Linked DNA regions of Homo sapiens. The protein of the gene in region 2 interacts with the protein of the main gene of each other region in a pairwise test. Each region holds a gene or a part of one and is shown on either strand. Other genes may lie near its edges.

Region 1 (3,823 bases), on a different chromosome or scaffold from region 2:
ATAGCAGATTCCTGTATTTTATTGAGACAAATACGTTGTATCGAATCAATTGTAAAACACACTTTTTTCACATTTTAATATCACTGAAATGTGGTTGTCTTATTACAATGTACCATAGTTGTGCAGTTGTTTTTCATCCTAAGTTGGTAATGGCACATCTTATAGTTGATGGCTTAAATCTGATAAAATTGTTCATCATGTCGTTTATGAATGTACAGTGCTTTGCACTTTATAAAACACTTTCCAATCAGATACTCCATTTGAATCTCAAAGGTCCCCTGAGAATGAGGCCTGCTGCTGCTGTCACCTTTATTTTAACCCTTGCCCAAGGTCATATAGCTAATTAGGGATGTGTTCAAAATTACAACCCAGAACTTTTGCTTCTTGGTGGTGACGTGTGACTTTACCCTGCTGTTGAGCCAGTCTGGGTTAATTGGGAATGGGGCAAGAGTTAGATCGGATTTGATTTCAGAACTATGCTGAAGATGCTGGATGATGGGGATTTTGTACACGGGTAGAGTGTAACTCATAAGAACTGTGTAGCCCCCTTAGCACAGATATTTGCTGCATTAAGCAGAAAAAAGACAGGGAGATAGAAAATGGCAGGTAGCAGGTAAAACCCGGGGTTGGAGCCTGCTTACGGTGAACCAGAAACTGGCTTGGCCCTGAGCGTACAAAGATGAGGTGTACATGGTCCCTGCCTTTGAGGAGCACACAAGTGTGTGGTGTGTGTGAGGGGGAGGGAAAAAGGTGGAGTGGGGCATGTCCGTGTATTAAGTGCTTTTACAGGGTAAGTTTTGGCTGCTCTTCACTGAGAAGGCTCACCCTCAGGGAAACCACTATAGAGAGGGGGGTGTCTGAGCTGAACCTCTAGGAATGAGTAGGAGTTGTCCAGGTGGAAGAAGGACAGGTGAGAGAAGGACCTATTAGCAAGATAGTAGCAGATGCAGAAGCAGGGAGAAGCTGCTTTATTCTCCAGGCTGTGTTTTGAAAGGCCAGCCATGAAGAGGACCATGGAAAATGGAGAAAGAAGAGGGCCTTTACTTTTTAATAAGTAAGGTTTAAATTAATCTCGATAGGGGCCGTTAAGTGGTTCTGTAGAGATTCACAGGAGAATAAGGCTGGGTAGGGTCTCTAGCGTCATCTCTGTGGGAGTAGTTATTTGGATGGTAATGCAGGAGGCATAGTACCACTTTTAGTCTGAGTGAACCTGGGACTTTGACCCTGGGCCGCGATTAGAGGATCCAAGCTGAGTATGTTCATTGGTGGGTGGGACTTTTCCTGGAATCTGGCTTTGGAGGGCTGTGCTTTGCTAGAAGAAACTTAGTAGAGTGAGGAAGGGGAAGATATAATCATGTTGATGCATGCAGGAAGCTAGTATCTGGGTGAAAATCTGTTGGCTTGAGGGAACATATGAGGCGGAGAACCTGAGGGCAAGGGGAAGGGTGGAAGGATTTCAAGTGTGTTGTGGAAGTCTGCTGTAGGCTGCCTGGAGGCTTGGAGAAAAAGGCTGGTGCATTCTAAATGTTGGTCACATCAGTGAGATTGGTAGGTGGATAGGTAGCTGTAGGTAGTGTAGGGATTAATGTTTGGAAGCAGGTAAACCACAGAGTTGAGGCTGGAAAATGTTTCCTTTCCTATCATTCTTTTTTAATAGTAATATAATTTTGAAATATTTTCAAATGCTTACCACCTGTTATGTAATTATCATATTGATTCATTAAAGTAGGTTTTTTGATTACCAGTCTCATTTTGCAGATGAGAAAATGAATTTGGTGAAATAAGGTTACACAACTACCAGGAGGCATTCAAACTTCTGCCTCATTCTTATAGCCTCTTCACCACTCTTTTCTATGCCCACATGCATGAAAAGCTCAAATCGACATTGCTTGTCTGTGTTCTTCCCTGGAATTTAATTCAGCCCACATTCGTGGGGCCCTAGTGGGGTCACAATTGAGGATTCACATGGACAAACGGGCTTCTCAGTCCCACACTGGTGCTGTTCTAGCCCCTTTTTCTCTCTTAAGATGCTACCTTGGGTGTCGTCTCTCCCCAAACCTAACTGGAAAGGACTAAGCCTCTCTAGCAAATCATCTGCCTCTTTCAACAGAGCTCGCTTCCCCAGTCCCTTGTTGTGTTAAGAATGTGATTTATTCTTGTAGAGAGGCAGTTAGGGTCATAAAGTAACAGAGTGGGGAAGTGACAGTCTTGAACTCAGTCATTACCTTTGATCTCACGGCTCCGGTAACGGTGCTATATGTTCTCTGGTGCTGAACCATATAGCTTCTGCGTCCTCTAGGAAAGCTTTCTGGCTCAGGGCTCTGAGGGAACACCTACAATCCTTCCTATCACCTACCTGAGTCAGATGGGTCATCTACATTTTGGCCACTCACAGATAAAAGCATTAATAATCTGTTTATTGTGTTGTGAGAGGAGACAGACCCCAGGATGTTCAGTAGCTGTTTGGTGAATGAACAATGTTTATGGACACAAATAAGCATGCATCACCACTTCATCTTACATATTTGTGTGTCTGCCTCCTCTCCACTTTAAAATAAGCTGCTTGAGGATTGCAGTGATGTCTGCTTGTTGATGGCTGTATTCCCAATGCCCAGAAGAATGCCTGACACATGGTAGGCACTCCAGAAATACTTGCTTGATGAAGAGAGGGAGTAAAATAGTTCACTGCAGCCACAGGATAGCAATCATGGGGGAGCGGGACTGTTTTTACTGCCCCAGAACCTTGAGCCAGTTGTTGCTGGCACAGGTGGCATTGGGCAGTCCTGCCAGCAGAGTGAAGATTGAGGGACTGGGAGTGTAGAGCTGAGGGTTGTGAGATTAACTATGCCAAGGTTAATTGCAGTTGCAACTGCTCTTTCACTTTTCCCTCACACAGACAGGTGGTCTGGAACAGTCCTCTGTTTTCTTCTCTTTTGAGACAGAGTATTTTTTTGTTTGTTTGTTTGGTTTGTTTGTTTTGAGACACAGTCACACTTTGTCACACAAGCTGGAGTGCAGTGGCGCAATCTTGGCTCACTGCAACCTCCACCCCCTGGGTTCAAGTGATTCTCCTGCCTCAGCCTCCCAAGTAGCTGGGATTACAGGTGCCCGCCACCACTCCCGGCTAATTTTTGTATTTTTAATAGAGACGGAGTTTCACCATGTTGGCCAGGCGGTCTTGAACTCCTGACCTCGTGATCCACCTGCCTTGGTCTCCCAAAGTGCTGGGATTACAGGCGTGAGCCACCACGCTCAGCCTTGAGATGGAGTTTTACTCTTGTTGCCCAGGCTGTAGTGCAATGGCCCGATCTCGGCTCACTGCAACCTCCGCCTCCCAGGTTCCAGCGATTCTCCTACCTCAGCCTCCCAAGTAGCTGGGATTACAGGTGCCTGCTGGCACGCCTGGCTAATTTTTGTATTTTTGTGGAGATGGGGTTTCACCATGTTGGCCAGGCTGGTCTTGAACTCCTGACCTCAGGTGATCCGCTGGCCTTGGCCTCCCAAAGTGCTGGGATTACAGGAGTGAACCACTGTGCCCAGCCCTCTGTTTTCTTAATCCATGCCTTTTCTTATGCTGTTTTCTCTACCTGGAGTTTCCAGCCTTTCTGTCTCTGCCTGTTGTAAACCTGTGATTCTAGGATCAATATCAAAATCTACCTTGTGCCATGAAGCAATTTCCAGACTCCTTAACCCTTCCAACCCACACGTATCTGTGATCAGATACAACTCAATTTCATGTATTGAGTTCGGTACTTGTGTACAAAGTGATTACTGTATGCCAGGCAGAAATGCTAGATACTGGTTACAAAGAAAACTGAGATAG
Region 2 (3,823 bases):
AAGGTTTTAAACTCAAAAACAGATGAATGCGCAACCTGGAGAGAAACAAGATGCCCCAAAATAGTGAACACTAAGCATGTAATAGATATGAAATTGCTCATCTTTGACCATTTTTGGTCTATAAAGACAATTTTCTATGGGTCAAATTAAAAATGGAGATTAAATACACACTTACAGTAGAGCTCAGTGCCCTGATTCTGCCTTTTCTATGGGTCTTAGATATCTGTGACATCTGCTTGCTGTTCCCTTTTCTGTGATTTACTTGCCAATTACCTCATGTGGTTCAATGATATGAAGAACAGGCGGATTAGGCTTTGGCTCCCTAGGATCACGCACTCTTAGTCGTTCTGTAGCCATTGCAAGTTCATCAACAGCAGACACACGATTCCTCAGAGCCATCCAATATTCATGAAGCAACTGAAGGAATAGAAAAGACAAACACAGTGGTAAAGCATGTAATTAAAACTGGTTAAAACCACCAAGATGTGCCTTAAGCAAAAGTCTTCAATGAGATCTTACACTTTTTCGCTATGTGTCTAACGTACAAGTAGTTCCTGGGGTCATTTTTAGGATGAAATGTGAATGAAAAAAATCTCTATAGGACACTGCCTCTTTAGATTCTCAGTAACAGAATATAAAGATTTCTTGCTAAGACCAAAAATCTTTATAAAGTCCAGTTTTAGGCTGACAGAATCTCTTGTTTTATTTTTTAAAAATAGTTTTATTATAACATATTTCACATATTCAACTATGTATAAATGGCAACAAGAATACTAAAATATACAATCAAGTACTCATCATTTAATTGAAGAAAGAATAATATGAATTCCTTGGAAAGGCTCTGTGTGTTCTTTCTCAACTGTATCACTCTTTCCTCACATATTCCTCCTTCAGTACCCAACCATGGGGCAACCACTATTCTGAATTGTACTTATCCTGCTACACTTTTCATTGAACTTATACTATGTGAAACATATTCTTAATAATTCAGTTATATATGTTTCTGAAATTCACAGAAATGGTATCAATCAGTATACATTTTTTGACAGGCTCTCTTCACTGACTTTACATTTTGAGGTAGATCTGGTAGATATGTACAGCAGGAGCTCATTCAATTGCTCTTCTGTGAAAAGGTCTGCAAAGTTATGCAGAAAATATGTACCAAGACCTGGGAGAACTGCACAGTAAGCTCTCTTCTGGACAAAGGGTATGTGGCCAAACTGAGTCGAAAGGAAGAATACAGGGGCAACTGAACATCATAAGTAACACTTCTTCCAAGGCTTACTGTAATTAACTGTGTTAACGTGCTTTGTATTCACATGAGTAATGTGTGAGAAAAACATTATTATAAACCAATGATTTTGATGTTATAAATGTATTCCCCAATTTATGACATATGAACTGATAGTACAAATAACTATCTCTCTGCATAAAAATTTTTATCCTACTTTAAAAAGCAAGACTTTTTAAAAAAGAAATTGAATAAAAATGTCATTATAAAAAAACACTTCTTTCCTTCCTCTACCTATGTCACCTGTAAAGCAGTACAATGGATAACTAATCCAAATAAAACAATAATTGAAAATTAATGAATTGTGAAATCTCAAGTACAGAGGTATAATATGATGGAATCATTAAAGTACAAATATGAAAGGGCATATCGGGCTTTATTTATTGGAATGGTTTCCAAACTTATAGGATAAGAAGTATTTACTATGTTCCCCAATCTTTAAGGTAGCTGATGCTTGCTTGTTATTCACAGAACAAAAACAAAACTCTAATTTCATATAATAGCAGTGGAAGATCAAGCTAATAATAGAATGAACACACTTTCACGGCTAAACAAAAAGTTTCATATAAGTTCCAGTTTAATAATGATTTTCTTTTAGTAATTTAATAAATAGAATGTCTTTGAGTATTATGGTATTTGCTATCCTTTATTACAACAGTTACATTTCAGGCAAAGAGAAATTATGCCACCTCAATCTCAAAAGAAGATTTTAAAAAACTGGAGAGAGAAAAAAGTAGCAGTTAAAATTGATGTAAAAAAGAAGAATTTTTAATTTTGGAAGGAAGTTTTAAAATACTATACCTTATATTCCTTCTTCCATGCTTCAAAGAGATCCATTGAAGTGCTTCCTTCATCAACAAATTCAACATCAAACCTATGTGATTTTGCAAATGATAGTATTGCTTTCATAGATCGCTCTGTCTCACTTATTGCCCAGAGACCCCGGGTGGTGGTAGGTGCTCGATCATCCACCAGTCCTTCTTCATCTTCTATCATCTCCTCAAATATTGCAGTCTGGCCTTTGACTCTGAAAACATACCAGAACAAAACAACAGTAACTGGTATCAGTGAGTGAAAAGCAACCTTCAATGTGAGTTCTAAAAGAACATGTTTGCAAGTCTTTGGAAAAACCAAAGCAACCTTGAAAAAGCTGAAAACATCATAAATTTGGCCAGTTTTTTTTTTTTTAAATTCTATTATATCCACTGTAATAAACAGAAAGCTACTGATTCATTTGCCATAACAACACAAAAATCTTGTTTTCTTCCTTGACATGCAGAAGTGAACGTTTGGCAAGGAAATATGTGAGGAAAATTTCTATTTTAGAGAAGTTATATCTGTTGGAGATAAATAAACAGAATTTGGACAGAAACATGAAGAAATGTATTATTTACTTCAGTAATAACAGAAAAAGATTTGACCTAAAATAGAATAGTAATACACCTGGATGAAAGTGGACACATTTATTGTTCTAACAAGCTTCCCTCTGAGAATCCAGGTGTTTGTGACAATGTTTACTTATGGTTTCATTAAAGTAATAACATATTTGATTGTGTCATTCTTTATTCTTGAAGAAGTTATGCCGGACATTATGAGTTCTACCTTGAATAGCAGTAAAATGCTAGCAAAATCTGTATAATTCAAATCCACTGGATTCTAGAGTCTGGGATTTTACCACTCCACAAAACTGCATCTCAATTAATTATATATTACTACACTATGAACATTTAGGGGATAACTTCTGGATAGGTAAAACTGGGCATATTAAACAATCAAATACCAAAGGTGTACTAATCAATTTAATTAAAGAAACAATATAATAAAGGTTACTGTGGGGGAAAACATAGTCTTATATCACATAACTGAGTCTTGCAAAATGTTTCATTTTCTTGATGGGTAATAATCAAATAGAGAACTTACGTGTTGGAAAATAGCTTTGATTCATACTCTGTGAACAATTCATCAGCTTTACAAAAGACACAGCTGAAAAAAAAGAGATTAACAGAAATATTCACAAACATAACCAGCAATCTGGTAATTTTAAGGAGAAGCTTAATATTTTGACTTCATTTTTCTTTCCACTAGATATGCCATTTTAGAAAAAACAAATCACATGGTTTTTCATACCTTGTCCTTGAGACTTTATTTTTCTTTAAATTAGATTAATACATCTCTTTCTACTTCTGTCTCAATTAAAATGAAAAAACCTTTACTATATGAGTCAATTGTTTCTTCTCTAAGAAATCTAGCTTAAAGAAATGGTACCATTTCATTGTATGATTTCTTCTATTACCTACCAGTTGAGAGGAAGTCTGGCTGGTCGGAGGTGACAGACTGTTGCAGACTCAATAACATTACGAGATGGAGGTCCCTCCAGGTTTTTTACAGCCTCTCTTACTAGCTTCTGGCATTTATTTAGCTCTTCCATTTGTGTTGTAAGTAAGAACTGAAGACCTCTGCAATCACGGAACCTGATTCCCACACCAGCACCACACACAATACAAAGAAAAGAATAATAGGTCAATTTCCTCA

Evidence for each region.
Region 1: the proteins of SHPRH (region 2) and LPP interact in a two-hybrid assay, tested with the Homo sapiens proteins (one large-scale study listed by IntAct).

Annotation. Positions count from the first base shown.
Region 1 is NC_000003.12:188,156,952-188,160,774, forward strand, and holds part of LPP (lipoma-preferred partner), read left to right. Parts: intron 1-3,823. UniProt on the Homo sapiens protein: May play a structural role at sites of cell adhesion in maintaining cell shape and motility. In addition to these structural functions, it may also be implicated in signaling events and activation of gene transcription.
Region 2 is NC_000006.12:145,919,075-145,922,897, forward strand, and holds part of SHPRH (E3 ubiquitin-protein ligase SHPRH), read right to left. Parts: intron 3,763-3,823; coding exon 3,589-3,762; intron 3,275-3,588; coding exon 3,212-3,274; intron 2,319-3,211; coding exon 2,093-2,318; intron 418-2,092; coding exon 274-417; intron 1-273. UniProt on the Homo sapiens protein: E3 ubiquitin-protein ligase involved in DNA repair.